Regions from separate parts of the Homo sapiens genome. Here region 1 is linked to region 2. A link means that fine-mapping ties the variant in region 2 to the expression of a gene that starts in the linked region. Tissue or cell type: cerebellar hemisphere. Region 2 holds a variant in brackets; the other region holds the start of a gene. All regions are shown on one strand. Distances are from middle to middle.

Region 1 (8,103 bases), 20 kb after region 2:
TACCAGCCTAGGCAATGTAGTGAGACCCTATCTCTATAAACTGAAAGGAAAAGAAAAAGAAAAAGACAGAAAGACAAACTTCTATTGGGCATCGCCAAGGGTGAGATCTCAATCCTATGGCTTACCACAAAACTACTTTCACTGAGTCACTGGTTTGCTCAAACCCACCCCTGCCCCCATAGTTCACTGTGTGTCCAGAAACTCCACATTTTTCAAACCACAACCTACCCATCAGCTTCTCATCTCTTATTTCTATTAAAGAGACACTCTGTGCTCCAAATTTGATTACACAACATATCCCGTTTTGATGCCTAGGCCTGGGACCCATCTTTTGAGGTTCCGAATGTCAAAGAATACTACCCAACCCCCCACCTTTTTTTTTTTTTTTTTTTTTTGAGACAGAGTCTCACTCTGTTGCCCACACTGGAGTGCAGAGGCATGATCTTGGCTCACTGCAACCTCTGCCTCCTGGGCTCAAGTGATTCTCATGCCTCAGCCTCCCAAGTAGCATGTGCCACCACACCCGGCTAATTTTTGTATTTTTAGTAGAGACGGAGTTTCACCGTGTTGGCCAGGCTGGTCTCGAACTCCTGACCTCAGGTGATCTGCCCACCTTGGCCTCCCAAAGTGCTGGCGTGAGCCATCACGCCCAGCCTAGATGGTTACATTCTTGTGAGGTTCTTATGAGCCTCAGTAAATCTACATTTTACATAAGATAAAGTAAAAGTGAAAAGCAGGAGTAGAGGAGATAAGGCTATGACATGGGATTGTGAAATTACAGCTGTCTGTTTGGGAACAAAAGGAAAAGCAGTATTTGTGTGATTCAGTTCCCAAGCTGAACTTTCCTTCTGGCATACTTTGGGGTTCCAATATTTTTTTCTTTCACAACCACAAAATTCCTTAAGGGAAGGGACATGTCTCACAAATGTTTATATCTATCGTTTTCTCCCTACCCACCCCCAATCCCAGCACTTAAAATACAAAAAATGGGACAGGAGTGGTGGCTGATGCCTGTAATCCCAGCATTTTGGGAGGCCAAGGCAGGCCGACTGCTTAAGCACAGGCATAAGAGACCAGTTTGGGCAACATGGCAAAACCCTGTTTCTAAAAAACAATAAATAAAATAAAAACAGGCCAGGCGTGGTGGCTCACGCCTGTAATCCCAGCACTTTGGGAGGCTGAGGTGAGCGGATCACAAGGTCAGGAGTTCAAGACCAGCCTGGCTCTACTAAAAATACAAAAGTTAGCTGGGTGTAGTGGCACCTGTAATCTCAGCAATTTGGGAGGCCGAGGCAGGAGAGTTGCTTGAACCCAGGAGGCGGAGGTTGCAGTGAGCCGAGATTGCACCACTGCACTCCAGCCTGGGTGACAGAGCAAGACTCCATATCGAAAAAAAAATAGATAAATACATTTTAAAAATAAAAAATTAGCTGGGTGTGGTGGCTCATGCTTGTAATCCAAGCACTTTGGGAGGCCAAGGTGGGTGGATTACCAGAGGTCAGGAGTTTGAGACCAGCCTGGCCAACATGGCAAAACCCCATCTCTATTAAAAGTACAAAAACTAGCCGGGCATGGTGGCATGCACCTGCATTCCCAGCTACTCGAGAGGCTGAGACGGGAGAACTGCTTGAACCTGGGAGGCAGAGGTTGCAGTGAGCCCAGATTGCACCACTGTACTCCAGCCTGGGTGACAGAGTGAGACTCCCTCTCAAAAAAAAAAAAAAAAAAAGAATTCATAACAGGAAGGTAAAGTGGGTGAACCTCTGAAGCACATTATAACATAAGTAGAGAAAGAGGAAGACAGAGAAAATGTGGAGAGCAGAACAGAAGTGAGAAGTGATCAAGTACTCTCATGAGGTGTGGGAGGGGGGCACTTAGTGGCACCCCACAATCTGCCTTCTGGAGAGACAGATTTCTAACCTTCTGTCTGGACTATGGTGTCAAAGTGCAAGTTGATAATTAACAGAGATTTTTCCTTTCTCTTCATCTCCATGTTCATCTCCAAGGCACTGAACAATGAAGTCAACCTTTTCATAACTGTCCATTTTTAGTTTCATTCATTGCACAAGTGCTTATTGAGCAAGGGATTTTAAGGTGATAAGAGACACACAAACACAGAAGCCCATCCCTGTCCTTAAAGAGCTCCCAATTTGACATAATTTAAATATTCATCTCCAAAGGAATTTAGAGAACCTATCCCAAATCCCAGGTTCCTCTTGGATACAGCATTTTAATCGTCAACACCCAAATCTTGTGATAGAAAAGGGCGGGCACACCAATAACTTGGAAACAACATTTATTTTTAGAATGAGTGCAGTGGCTCAGGCTTGTAATCCCAGCACTTTGGGAGGCTGAGGCGGGAAGATCGGTTGAGTCCAAGAGGTTGAAATCAGCAAGGGCAACATAGCGAGACCCCCATCTCTACAAAAAATAATAATAATTAACTAGGCGTGGTGATTAGCCCCCTGTAGTTCCAGCTACTCAGGAGGCCAAGGTGAGAGGATCCCTTGAGCCCGGGAGTTCGAGGCTGCAGTGAGCTATGATGGCCACTGCACTCTAGCCTAGGTGACAGGGCAAGACCCTGTCTCAAAAAACAAACACAAACAAAAACCCTTATTTTCAAAAATTATGAATTTTGTAAATCTCAGGATTTACATCCCTCTGTTTTTAGTTTTGCAATCCACATAAAACCAAGACAAAACAAAAGCTCTGAGAACTCACCTACTCAAGGTCGCCTTGGCTGCAATTCAGATCACCCGAAAATCCCAAAGCCCAGGCTGCACTTCAGACCAATTAAGTCGGGAAACATCCCAAAGCCCAAGTGCACCTCAGACCAATTAAGTCGGGAATCCAGGCACCCTCAGGTGATTCGAATGTGTAGCCAAGGTTGACAACAACCGCTATAAATCATTCTGCCCTTGAAACGGGAGAACCAGGATCTACATTTTTCAAGAACCAGGATCTATGGCACCGTCACCCTCGTCCCTACACACAGGCCACCAGCAATGTTCCCAGATGCAGTTTTGTGTTTCACGCGGTCAAGAACAGAATCCAATCCTCTCCCACTTGGACAAGTGAGGATGGAGGAAGGTTAATCTAACCCGCCCCGGCCCTGGTCAATATCGCATCCGTGCGGAAGCAGACGCTGGCTCGGCTTTGCGGGCCGCAGAGAAGCCCCCGGACGCCTCTCTCTCCTCCACCTGCTGGGTTCCTGGCTTCGGAATGGGGAGTTGCGGGGGTGGAAAAGAGGAAAGCCCAGCGCCGGGGGACAGGATCGCCATAGGAACGAGCACAGGCTGTCCCCCGAAAGACCGAGACAAAGAGGCGCCCCCCGCCCGAACAAACCGGCGGTACTCACGCAAGTGCCACCCAGCTTGTGGCTCTCCACCACGGCGGCCCTGGCACCCAGCTCGGCCGCCCTGCGCGCGCTGGCCAGCCCGCCCGAGCCGCCCCCGATCACCAGGTAGTCATAGGAGGCCACGGCGCCAGCAGCGGGCGGCGGGCCCTGCGGCTGCGGCTCCTGCCTGCAGGCCATGGCACGGGAGAGGGCGCGCGTGAGGGCCGCGGGCTCGGGCAGAAGCAGCAGGAAGCCTCGGAAGGCGCGCGCCGCCCGCCGCCAGCTCGGTCCCGCGCCGGCGCTCAGGGCTCGGGGCAGCAGGGCCATGCACGCGGAAGTGGCGCGCCAAGTGGGGCGGGCGGCCCGGGGGCGGTCCCCGGGGTAGGGGGGCGCGGGCCCCGGGCAAGCGCAGCCTCACGGTGACTAAGCATGCGCCCGCCGCTAGGCAAGACCCAGGAGGATGCCCAGAGGCGGGGCCGCCTCCCAGTTCCCCGCCCCGGTGGCGGAGCCTGAGGGGTTTCTCCGCCTCCGTTCTCACCCCGGCCCCTGGATCCCGAGCGGCGCCTGCCGCGTGTAGCCTTCTGAAGTCCGGTGGATCGAGGCGAGGAACGGTGAACGTCCTCTCGTTTCAGCTGGCTTTTCCCGAGCTGGCCCCCTGGGGAGTTGCCAGTGGCACGGCTTCTCCAGGAAGAGAAATTTGCCTCTATTCGAAGGGTTGTTTGTCCAGGTTTGTTCCAGAGACCACTTTTGTTTGTTCTTGCTTTTTCTTTGAGACTGGGTCTCACTCTCCCCCAGGCAGGGGTGCAGTGATGCGATCTCTGCTCACTGCAGCCTCCACCTACTGTGCTCAAGCAGCGATCCTCCCTCCTCAGCCTTCCCGGTAGCTGGGAACTACAGGTGCCCGCCACAGCGCCCAGCTAATTTATTTATTTATTTATTTAATTTTTTTTTTTATTTTTTTTATTATTTTTATTTTTTTTTTAGAAATAGGGTCTCACTATGTTACCAGGACTGGTAGGGAACTCTTGGCCTCAAGCGATTCTCTCACCTCGGCCTCCCAAAATGCTAGGATTATGGTATGAGGTCACCACTTCTCCTGTTGTCCTTCTCAGTTTCTCCCCAACCTCCCCTTTTCCCTAGTTTATAAGACAGGAGAAAAGGGAGAAAGCAAAAAGTTGGAAAGAAACAGAAGTAAGATAAATAGCTAGACGACCTTGGCACCACCACCTGGCCCTGGTGGCTAAGATAATAATAATATTATTAACCCCTGACCAAAACTATTGGTGTTATCTGTAAATTCCAGACATTGTATGAGAAAGCACTGTAAAACTTTTTGTTCTGTTAGCTGATGTATATAGCCCCCAGTCACGTTTCCCACGCTTACTTGATCTATTATGATTTTTTCACGTAGACCCCTTAGAGTTGTAAGCCCTTAAAAGGGCTAGGAATTTCTTTTTCGGAGAGCTCGGCTCTCAAGACGCGAGTCTGCCAACGCTCCTGGCCGAATAAAAAACCTCTTCCTGCTTTAATCTGGTGTCTGAGGAGTTTTGTCTGTGACTCATCCTGCTATATTTCTTGGTTCCCTGACTGGGAAGCGAGGTAATTGACGGACAGTCGAGGCAGCCCCTTAGGGGGCTTAGGCCTGCCCTGTGGAGCATCCCTGCGGGGAACTCCCGCCAGCTTGAGCGACGCGGATCCTGCGAGCGCTCCTGGGTAGGCAATTGCCCCGGTGGAACGCCTAGTCAGAGCAGTGCGTGGCAGGCCCCCGTGGAGTATCAACGCAGTGGCTGAACACCGGGAAGGAACAGGCACTTGGAGTCCGGACATTTGAAACTTGGTAAGACTGGTCTTCGGAACTTGCCCACTCCATTTGAGTGGAAGCATGGCCTGATCACCCACGGCGTGCCTGTACTGGCACTTTGGTTTTTGTTTTTGACTTGACTTGAATTGCTTGACACTTTGGTTTTGGTTTGACCTGGCTTGGATTACTGGATACTCTGATTTTGGTTTTGATTCTGGTTTGGTGAAAACTGAAAAAGTGCGTGTGTGCCCTTTTTACCCATTCTTTGTTTTGTGGTGTGCGTTTGGTGTGAGCTTGGTGTTTTGTCTTGAGGAAACACGGGTCAGACACAAAATAAGCCTACTCCTCTAGGAACTATGTTGAAAAATTTTAAGAAGGGATTTAATGGCGACTATGGGGTTACTATGACACCAGGGAAACTTAGAACTTTGTGTGAAATAGATTGGCCAACATTAGAAGTGGGTTGGCCATCAGAAGGAAGCCTGGACAGGTCCCTTGTTTCTAAGGTATGGCACAAGGTAACTGGTAAGTCAGGACACTCAGACCAGTTTCCATACATAGACACTTGGTTACCACAGTGGGTAAGAGGGCAGGCAGCAGCAGTGCTAGTAGCAAAGGGACAGATAGTCAAGGAAGGATCCCGCTCCACCCACCGAGGGAAATCAACTCCTGAAGTTCTGTTCGACCCAACATCAGACGATCCATTGCAGGAGATGGCAAAAGTCATCCCAGTGGTGCCCTCCCCTTACCAGGGAGAGAGGCTCCCCACTTTTGAGTCCACAGTGCTTGTGCCTCCGCAAGACAAACATATCCCTAGGCCACCCAGAGTAGACAAGAGAGGAGGTGAAGCCTCAGGAGAAACCCCTCCCTTGGCAGCTCGTTTAAGACCCAAAACGGGGATACAAATGCCCTTGAGAGAGCAGCGGTATACTGGAATAGATGAGGATGGGCACATGGCGGAGAGGCGTGTTTTTGTGTGCCAGCCCTTCACCTCTGCCGACCTTCTCAACTGGAAAAACAATACCCCGTCCTGTACTGAAAAGCCACAAGCTCTAATTGATTTGCTCCAAACTATTATCCAGACCCATAACCCCACTTGGGCTGATTGCCACCAGTTGCTCATGTTCCTCTTTAACACAGATGAAAGGCGGAGAGTGCTCCAAGCAGCAACTAAGTGGCTAGGGGAACATGCACCGGCTGATTACCAAAACCCCCAAGAGTATGTAAGGACCCAGTTACCGGGAACCGACCCCCAGTGGGACCCAAATGAAAGAGAGGATATGCAAAGGCTAAACCGATACAGGGAAGCTCTCTTAGAAGGATTAGAGGGGAGCCCAGAAGGCCACAAACGTTAATAAGTTCTCTGAGGTCATTCAGGGAAAAGAAGAAAGTCCAGCACAATTCTACGAGAGACTGTGTGAGGCCTATCACATGTATACTCCCTTTGATCCCGATAGCCCTGAAAATCAACGCATGATTAACATGGCTTTAGTTAGTCAAAGCGCAGAAGACATTAGAAGAAAACTGCAGAAACAGGCTGGGTTTGCAGGGATGAACACATCACAATTATTAGAAATAGCTAACCAGGTGTTTGTAAACAGGGATGCAGTAAGCCGTAAGGAAAACCGCAGAGAGAATGAACGTCAGGCCCGGCGAAATGCCGAGCTGTTAGCTGCAGCAATTAGAGGGATCTCCCACAAAAAGGCAAGGGAAGGGGGGCCCCGGGAAAGAAACTCAGCCTGGCTGTCAGAGCTTGCAGCGTAATCAGTGTGCTTATTGTAAAGAAATAGGACATTGGAAGAACAAATGCCCTCAGCTAAAAGGAAAACAAGGTGACTCGGAGCAGGAGGCTCCAGACAAGGAGGAAGGGGCCCTGCTCAACCTGGCAGAAGGGTTATTGGACTGAGGGGGACCGGGCTCAAGGACTCCCAAAGAGCCTATGGTCAGGATGACAGTTGGGGGTAAAGACATTGATTTTCTTATAGATACCGGTGCTGAACATTCGGTAGTAACCGGCCCAGTCGCCCCCTTATCCAAAAAGACTATTGACATCATCGGAGCCATGGGAGTTTCAGCAAAACAAGCTTTCTGCTTGCCCCGGACTTGTACTGTAGGAAGACATAAAGTGATTCATCAGTTTTTGTACATGCCTGATTATCCCTTGCCCTTGTTGAGAAGGGACTTGCTTAGCAAACTGAGAGCCACTATCTCTTTTACAGAGCACGGCTCTTTGCTGCTAAAGTTACCCGGAACGGGAGTCATTATGACCCTTACGGTCCCCCGAGAGGAGGAATGGAGACTTTTGTTAACTGAGCCGGGCCAAGAGATAAGACCAGCTCTGGCTAAGCGGTGGCCAAGAGTGTGGGCGGAAGACAACCTCCAGGGTTGGCAGTCAACGAAGCCCCCGTACTTATAGAAGTTAAGCCCGGGGCCCAGCCGGTTAGGCAAAAACAGTACCTGGTCCCCAGAGAAGCTCTTGAAGGTATCCAGGTCCATCTCAAGCACCTAAGAACCTTTGGAATTATAGTTCCTTGTCAGTCTCCATGGAACACTCCCCTCCTGCCTGTTCCCAAGCCTGGGACCAAGGACTACAGGCTGGTACAGGATTTGCGCTTGGTTAATCAGGCTACAGTGACTTTACATCCAACAGTACCTAACCCGTACATATTGCTGGGGTTGCTGCCAGCTGAGGACAGCTGGTTCACCTGCTTGGACCTGAAAGACGCTTTCTTTAGCATCAGATTAGCCCCTGAGAGGCAGAAGCTGTTTGCCTTTCAGTGGGAAGATCCGGAGTCAGGTGTCACTACTCAGTACACTTGGACCTGGCTTCCCCAAGGGTTCAAGAACTCCCCCACCATCTTCGGGGAGGCATTGGCTCGAGACCTCCAGAAGTTTCCCACCAGAGACCTAGGCTGCGTGTTGCTCCAGTACGTTGATGACCTTTTGCTGGGACACCCCACGGCAG
Region 2 (8,103 bases):
TGTCTGGCCTGGGCATGGTGGCTCACATCTGTAATTCCAGCACTTTGGAAGGCCGAGGCAGGCAGATCACCTGAGGTCGGGAGTTCGAGACCAGCCTGACCAACATGGAGAAACCCCATCTCTACTAAAAATATAAAAATTAGCCAGAAGTGGTGGCGGGCACCTGTAATCCCAGCTGCTCAGGAGGCTGAGGCACGAGAATTCCTTGAACCTGGGAGGCAGAGGTTGCAGTGAGCCGAGATTACGCCACTGCACTCCATCCTGGGCGACAGAGACAAGACCCTCTCTCAAAAAGACTGGTGTGTCTGGAGGAGAGGCAGAAGGCTAAGAAAGACAACAGGATAATGGTGAAATGAACAGAGGCAAGAGCAAGAGAGGAATACTCTGGCCAAGGGAGGGAAACGCAATGCTTGTGCTTTCGTAAAATGGGAAGAATACCACAAAAGTACATGACACTGAAGTTCTACGCTGGAGACGGTGAGAACTCAGACTCTTACTTTTGGATTTGCTCTTACTGGAATCCTCTGTACCCAGGCCTTCACTTAGGGGCTGCTGGCACGCTTTCGCCAGCCATGATACATGCAGGGGCATGCAAATGTGGTCAACTTACAAGAATAATGGAACCATGTAAGCATGATTACAAAGTGGAATGCTTTAACATATTGGAACGTGCTTGATTCTGAATTGAGTTATCTTCTTCTTTCCCTGCACCCTCCAGGCCTGTTCCTGCAGGTGCCAGGCTTAATCAAGCTGAATCAAGGTCAAAGACAAAATCCACAGGCCTCCAGAACACCATTCCCTCAGGTCTTAATGACTTCATCTGCAATGCTAGACAAAAAGGAGTATGGCTCGCGTGGCGATAGGACAGACACTAGTTCAGAGGAGGAAGCAGTGAGATTTTTACTTTCAGTTTCCAGGATATTAGATAGAAAGTTTCCTTTGCAATATAGAATTTCTGGGTCAACTATAGGTAATTCCTTCCCCATAAGATCACCATAAGCTATAGTACACACCAAGATTTCTAAGTATTACAAAATGCTGGTTCCTGAATAATTTTCCTACCTCTTTTGCAAAAGTATTTCAGTCAGCTCCATTAAAAAAAAAAAAGGCCAGATGCAGTGGTTTATGCCTATAATTCCCATATTTTGGGAGGACAAGGCAGAAGGGTTGCTTGAGTCCAGGAGTTCAAGATCAGCGTGGGCAACATAGCAAGACCTCATCTCTACAAAAAAATTTTTTTTTTTGAGACAGAGTCTTGCATTTTTGCCCAGGCTGGAGTGCAGTGGTGTGATCTCAGCTCACTGCAAGCTCCGCCTCCAGGGTTCACGCCATTCTCCTGCCTCAGCCTTCCAAATAGCTGGGAATACAGGCGCCCGCCACCACACCTGGTCAATTTTTGTATTTTTTAGTAGGGCTGGGGTTTCACCGTGTTAGCCAGGATGGTCTCAATCTCCTGACCTCATGATCCACTCGCTTCGGCCTCCCAAAGTACTGGGATTACAGGTGTGAGCCACCGCGCCCGGCCTCTACAAACGTTTTTTAAAAGTAGTAGGGTGTGGTGGGACAGTGCTTATAGCCCAAGCTACTCAGGGGGCTGAGGTGGGAGGATTGCTTGAGCCTGGGAGGTTAAGGCTGCAGTGAGCTGTGATCACGACAGTGCCCTCCAGTCTGCTCAAGAGAGTGAGATCCTGACTTCAAAAAAATAAAAAATAAAAATAAAAAACTTGGTGTGTTTTAGTACTGCCAGTGTTACTCTATACTCAGCCTTAAAATCTCCTGTGCTTAAGGACTGCAGGCCTTTAAATATTTTTCCCCCTGGATTGAGGATTAAGGTTGGAAAATTCACCCTCCAAAAAATAAACCCAATGAATAAGAATATAAAACTGTACACAGTTAGCTATGTATGAAGTAACTCGTCCTAAAAATTGGTTTATAAATATGCTGCTACTGAGATCACAGTGGCCTAATTATCATCAAGAATCTACTGATCTAAGCCAGGTGTAGTGGCTGATGCCTGTAATCCCAGCATGTTGGAAGGCCAAAGCAGGAGGATCACTTGAGCCTGGGAGGTCGAGGCTGTAGTGAGCTGAGATCATGCCACTGCACTTCAGCCTGGGTGACAGAGTAAGACCCTTTTCAAAAAAAAAAAAAAAAGTTACTGATCTAAATATAACCTAAGAGGGCCAGGAGTGGTTGTTCACCCCTGTAATCCCAGCACTTTGGGAGGCTGAGGCAGGCAGATCACTTCAGGCTAGGAGTTCAAGACCAGCCTGGCCAACATGGTGAAACCCTATCTCTACTAAAAATACAAAAAAAATTAGGCAGGTGTGGGGGCACGTGCCTGTAGTCCCAGCTACTCGGGAGGCTGAGGCACAAGAATTGCTTGAACCTGGGAGGCAGAGGTCGCAGTGAGCCGAGATCACATCACTGCATTCCAGCCTGGGCGACAGAGCAAGATTCTGTTTCACAAATAAACAAACAAACAAACAAACAAACAACCGTAAGAAATCTTAGAAACAGCAAAGTGAGACCACAAAGACAAATGAAGGGTGGCGGGAAGATATTGTCAAGGAAAAGGAGAGTTAAGTGATGCACAGGTTGTCAATGTCACCTACATGGTCCTGGTGGGAAAGGTGTGACATCCCAGCACTATGGGGGAAAAGCATCAGGATAGTGAAGGATGACATACAGTTGCTGGAGGCAAACACACCTCTGCCCAGTTTTCTTGATCAGATGTCATTCATAAAAACAACCTTCTGAATCCTAATTTGGTCTCTTAAGGAGGTCTTACTCTAGGCAAATAAACAATGGTAGGTTTGGCCAGGTGCGGTAGCTCACGCCTATAATCTCAGCACTTTGGGAGGCCGAGGTGGGCAAATCACTTGAGGTCAGGAGTTCGAGACCCCTGGCCAACATGGTGAAATCCCGTTTCTAGTAAAAATACAAAAATTACCCAGGCGTGGTGGTGCACACCTCTAATCCCAGCTGCTTGGGAGGCTGAGGCAGGAGAATTGCTTGAACCTGGCGGGAGGCAGAGGTTGCACTGAGCTGAGATTGTGCATTCCAGCCTGGGTGAATAGAGAAACTCTGTCTCAAAAAACAAACAAACACACAATGGCAGGTTTTCAGCTAGATAGCACTCCTCATTTTAATTAATAAACTGGTATACTGGTGCACAAAGTCTCTCGTATGTGACTTCTGAATCTAATTGCCAGGCCAGACCTACTCAAGGTGCAGCCATTAGGTGAGGCCTGGTCTGCCAGCTCTGGCACATGCCACCCTCTCTCTGCAGAAGAGACTGGCCATCTAGGTCAGAGGCTTCTGCTCTGACAGGTCAATTTCAATAATAGAAAAAGTAAGAGGCCAGGCACAGTGGCTCATCTCTATAATCCCAACACTTTGGGAGGCTAAGGCAGGAGTTTAAAGACCAGCCTAGGCAACACAGTGAGAAATCTCTACAAAATATTTTAAAAATTAGCCAGGTGTGGTGGTGCATGCCTACAGTCCTAGTTACTAAGGAGACTGAGGTGGGAGGACTGCTTGAGCCCAGGACTTGGAGGCTACAGTGAGCTATCATTGCACCACCGTACTCCAGCCTGGCGACAGATAGAGACCTGGTCGTTAAAAATAAAATAGGGCCGGGTGCAGTGGCTCATGCCTGTAATCTCAGCACTTTGAGAGGACAAGGTGGGCAGAT[C/A]ACCTGAGGTCAGGAGTTCGAGACCAGCCTGGCCAACATGGTGAAACCCTGTTTCTACTAAAAAAATACAAAAATTCGATGGGTGTGGTGGCACACGCCTGTAGTCCCAGCTACTCAGGAGGCTGAGGCAGGAGAATTGCTTGAACTCAGGAGGCGGAGGTTGCAGTGAGCCGAGATTGCGCCCCTGCACTCCAGCCTGGGCGACAGAGCGAGACCCTGTCTCCAAAAAAATAATAATAAAAATAAATAAATAAATAGGGCTACAGTCTGGCAAGACTTAGCTGAGTACTCAAGAAGGGAACAGCTCTTTCTCAAAGTTAAAAACCCAGCATACACACCTTGGTGAGATTGTTTTGATAGATGGCATTCAGGCGGCTCACATAGGCATCCCGCTTTTCCTTAATAACACTGCAATGAAACCCAAGTCAGTATTCAGAAACAGGATCTTCCCCTTCTAGTTAGTAACTAAGGCATCTGTCCCTGAACACCCCGAGCAGAGAATCACTGACTGTCAACAGCAACCGCAGTGAGTGAATGTCTCCGAAGACAGTCATCCCTTCCCTGTGTCATTCTGCTGCCCCATGTGTTAAAAGCCTCTGTGCCACTCAGTGGAGAACACACTCAGTTGGCATCATCTTTCTGCGCAGAAGACAAGGAGAAATGTTTTGGCAAAGTGCCTAGAACATGATGTGCACAGGACGTGGTGGGCACTTAATAAACACTTGCTAAATAAATAAATTTGCTAAATTTCTTCAAAACTGTTAATGGCTTCAAAGGATTTACAGCAGTTCCTTAAATAGTTAAACACAAAACTACCATACGATTCGGCAATTTCACTTCTAAGTACAGACCCAAAAGAAACTGGAAGCAGAGACCTGAACAGATACCCATATACGAATGTTCATAGCAGCATTGTTCACAATAACCAAAAGGTAAAAACAGGCCGGGCGCGGTGGCTCACGCCTGTAATCCCAGCACTTTGGGAGGCTGAGGTGGGCGGATCACGAGGTCAGAAGATCGAGATCATTCTGGCTAACACAGTGAAATCCCGTCTCTACTAAAAAAAATACAAAAAATTACCCAGGCATGCTGGTGGGTGCCTGTAGTCCCAGCTACTCAGGAGGCTGAGGCAGGAGAATGGCGTGAACCCGGTAGGCGGAGCGTGCAGTGAGCCGAGATCGCACCACTGCACTCCAGCCTGGGTGACAGAGTGAGACTCCGTCTCAAAAAAAAAAAAAAAAAAGGTAAAAACAACCCAAAAATTCACTAACAAATGAATGGATAAACAAAATGTGGTTTTATCCATATGAAGAAATCTTATTCTGCCTTTAAAAGGAATGAAGGCTGGGCACAGTGGCTCACACTTGTAATCCCAGCACATTGGGAGGCTGAGGCGGGAGGATCACTTCAGCTCAGGAGTTCAAGACTAGCCTGGGCACCACAGTGAGACCTCATCTCTACTAAAAACAAAAATTAAAAAAAATAGGCAGGCATGGTGGCACGTGCCTGTAGTCCCAGCTACTCAGGAGGCTGAAGTGGGAGGATAGCTTGAGCCCAGGAGCTCAAGATAGCAGTGAGCTATGATTGCACCACTGCACTCCAGCGTGGACAACAGAGCAAGACCCTGTCTTAACAAACAAACAAAAAGGAATGAGGTTCTGATACATACTACAACATGGACAAACCGTGAAAACAAAATACACTAGACATAAAGGAACAAATATTGTATGATTCCACTTATATGAGTTCCCTAGAATTGGCAAATTCATAGAGACAGAAAGCAGAATAGAGGTTCCCAGGGGCCAGGGGGAGAAGAGAATGAGGGGTTATTGTTTAATAGAATAGTTTCTGTTTGGGATAGCAGAAAAGTTCTGGAAGTGGTAATAGTGGTGACGACTGTATAACAATGTGAATGCGCTTAATGGCACTCAATTGTATACTTAAAAATGGCTAAACTGTAAATCTCGTATTGTGAATATTTACCGCAATTCCTCCTCCATCCCTAAAAAAGTTTATGGCTCAGTTATAAAAGAAAAATATCTACACTTGGAAACTGAACCCTCTGAGTGTTGACACTTACCGCCAATTGAATTTACCCTCACAACTTGGAAAGCCATAATCAGCATGATCATGCATGAATTCAGAGTGGACAGCTGTGTTCCACATTACCTGTAAAAAAAAAAAAAAAAAAGGATCCAAAACAGCAGTAAATCAGTCCTGAGGGAAAAAAGGAATCATGAATGAATGGTAACTAGGTAACAGCAGATAAAAATACTGCCCTTTAAATTAAAAACAAACCTAGCTGGGCACGGCAGCTCACGTCTGTAATCCCAGCACTTTGGGAGCCCGAGGCAGGTGGATCACTTGAGGTCAAGAGTTCGGGACCAGCCTGGCCAACATGGCAAAACCCCATCTCTATTAAAAATACAAAAATTAGCTGGGTATGGTGGCACACACCTGTAGTCCCAGCTACTTGGGAAGCTGAGGCAGGAGAATTGCTTGAACCCTGAGGGCAGAGGTTGTAGTGAGCCAAGATCACACTGCTGCACTCCAGCCTGAGTGACAGAGTCTCTGTCTCAAAAGATAAAATAATAATAATAATAATAAATAAAATCTACTATACCTTGCTAACTTAAAACATTTTTTTTTAAAGAGATAAGGGGAAAGCTATTAAAAACAGACTAAAAAGAAACAAACACAAGGCCGGGCACAGTGGCTCATGACTATAATCCCAGCACTTTGGAAGGCAGAGGGAGGTAGATCACTTGAGGTCAGGAGTTCGAGACCATCTTGGCCAACATGGTGAAATCTCATTTCTAATAAAAATACAAAAAAAATTAGCCAGGCATGGTGATGCACGCCTGTAGTCCCAGCTACTTGTGCTGAGGCAGGAGAATCACTTGAACCTGGGAGGTGGAGATTGCAGTGAGCTGAAATCACACCACTGCATTCCGGCCTGGGCAAGAGTGAGACTCTGTCTCAAAAAAAAAAAAAAAAAAAAAAAAAAAAAAAGAAAAGAAAAAAAAGAAAAAAAAATATATAAATGAACATACATAAATGTCTACCGCATGTGATCAGAAGGAATAAGTAAATATGAGACTAAAACATTACAAAATCAGTTTACTGTGCAGTATTAGCCCAGTGGTATATTTAAAAAAAAATAAACTTGTACCAATCAACACGAAATTTACCACCATAACTGGTTTAAACTACATAAAACCACCTTATAATTAATTTATATAATTCATACAGTCATAATTGCATGGCTCCAAGTAGAACAGATTACAAAAAGTATGACTAATAGGAAAGGAAATAGTTGAGGGAAAATGTCCCAGAGAAGAAAAGTCTTCCTAAGACAGAAAGAAAAACACCTTACCTATACCACGGAAAAGACTTCAAAAAGACTTTTTGGAATTAAACTCAGGTATGCATCACTGATGAGATTAGGAGATTTGCTTATATAATACCAAAAAGATGACAAGTTAAAATGGAATGTCATTAATAAAGGTGGTAAGCTTGAGATTACAACATATGTTGAAAGTACATTCAAATGAGTGGTAAAATTCTTTGCAAGTATAAGCAAGAGGCAGCTTTACAAATAAGAGCTGCTGTTTTTTCCTCTTTGTCAAGGGTAAAAAAAATGAATTCATTCAATGTGACCTGCACCACAGATATTAACAACGAAAAAATCACTAATGTGATACAGAAAATCCATGAACCCACAGAACTTGAGAAGATTCCATTCAACAGTTTGGTTTGCTGGCTGGGTCTTTTTGCTGAGAAAAAACTATCCTGTGGTGTAGATGACCAGGCCTTGGCTGGGGTCTGTGGCTCATGCCTATAATCCCAGCATTTTGGGAGGCTGAGGTGGGCAGATCACCTGAGGTCAGGAGTTCGAGACCAGCCTGGCCAACACGGTGAAACCCCCATCTCTACTAAAAATACAAAAATCAGTCAAGTGCAGTGGCGCACGCCTGTCATCCCAGCTACTTGGGAGGCTGAGGCAAGAGAATCACTTGAACCCAGGAGGCAGAGGTTGCGGTGAGCCAAGATCGCGCCACTGTACTCTAGCCTGGGTGACAAGAACGAAACTCCGTCTCAAAAAAACAATAATAATAAAAATAAAAAGTAATTAAAAATAAATAAAAAAATTTAAAAAACACAAATCAAACAAAAACAATCCTATTGCTTAAGCTACTTTTAGTAGGGTCTAGGGGTTTTTTTTGCAGAAAGAATTTTAACTGATCTATTTGGAAACATTCTGATTTTGATTATGATTTACCAAATAGAAAAAGGATTGTAAAGGGAAAGAGAAATAAAAATTCTACCTTTTTGGGTACACATCCAACATTCACCTGGAAAAAAAAAAAAGAGACACACTTTAAGAATATTGAATTCAAACCATC

The links. PIP is the estimated chance that this variant, and not a neighbour inherited with it, causes the effect.
Region 1: it holds the start of GSR, and the variant in region 2 is fine-mapped to the expression of GSR in cerebellar hemisphere (GTEx, PIP above 0.99).

The regions. Positions count from the first base shown.
Region 1 is chr8:30,724,172-30,732,274 of GRCh38, forward strand. It overlaps GSR (glutathione-disulfide reductase), which reads right to left and starts at 3,675. Exons shown (of 13, transcript NM_000637.5): 1 at 3,359-3,675. The coding sequence starts at 3,664. It also overlaps a transcript of UBXN8 not described here. RefSeq lists silencers at 132-191, 3,336-3,775, 3,846-3,935 and enhancers at 2,573-3,260, 5,023-5,547.
Region 2 is chr8:30,704,037-30,712,139 of GRCh38, forward strand. It overlaps GSR (glutathione-disulfide reductase), which reads right to left. Exons shown (of 13, transcript NM_000637.5): 2 at 8,026-8,052; 3 at 5,778-5,866; 4 at 4,036-4,105. Among named protein-coding and RNA genes, the nearest start is that of GSR, 20 kb to the right of the region's middle. The variant C/A (reference allele first, on the strand shown) is at 3,698.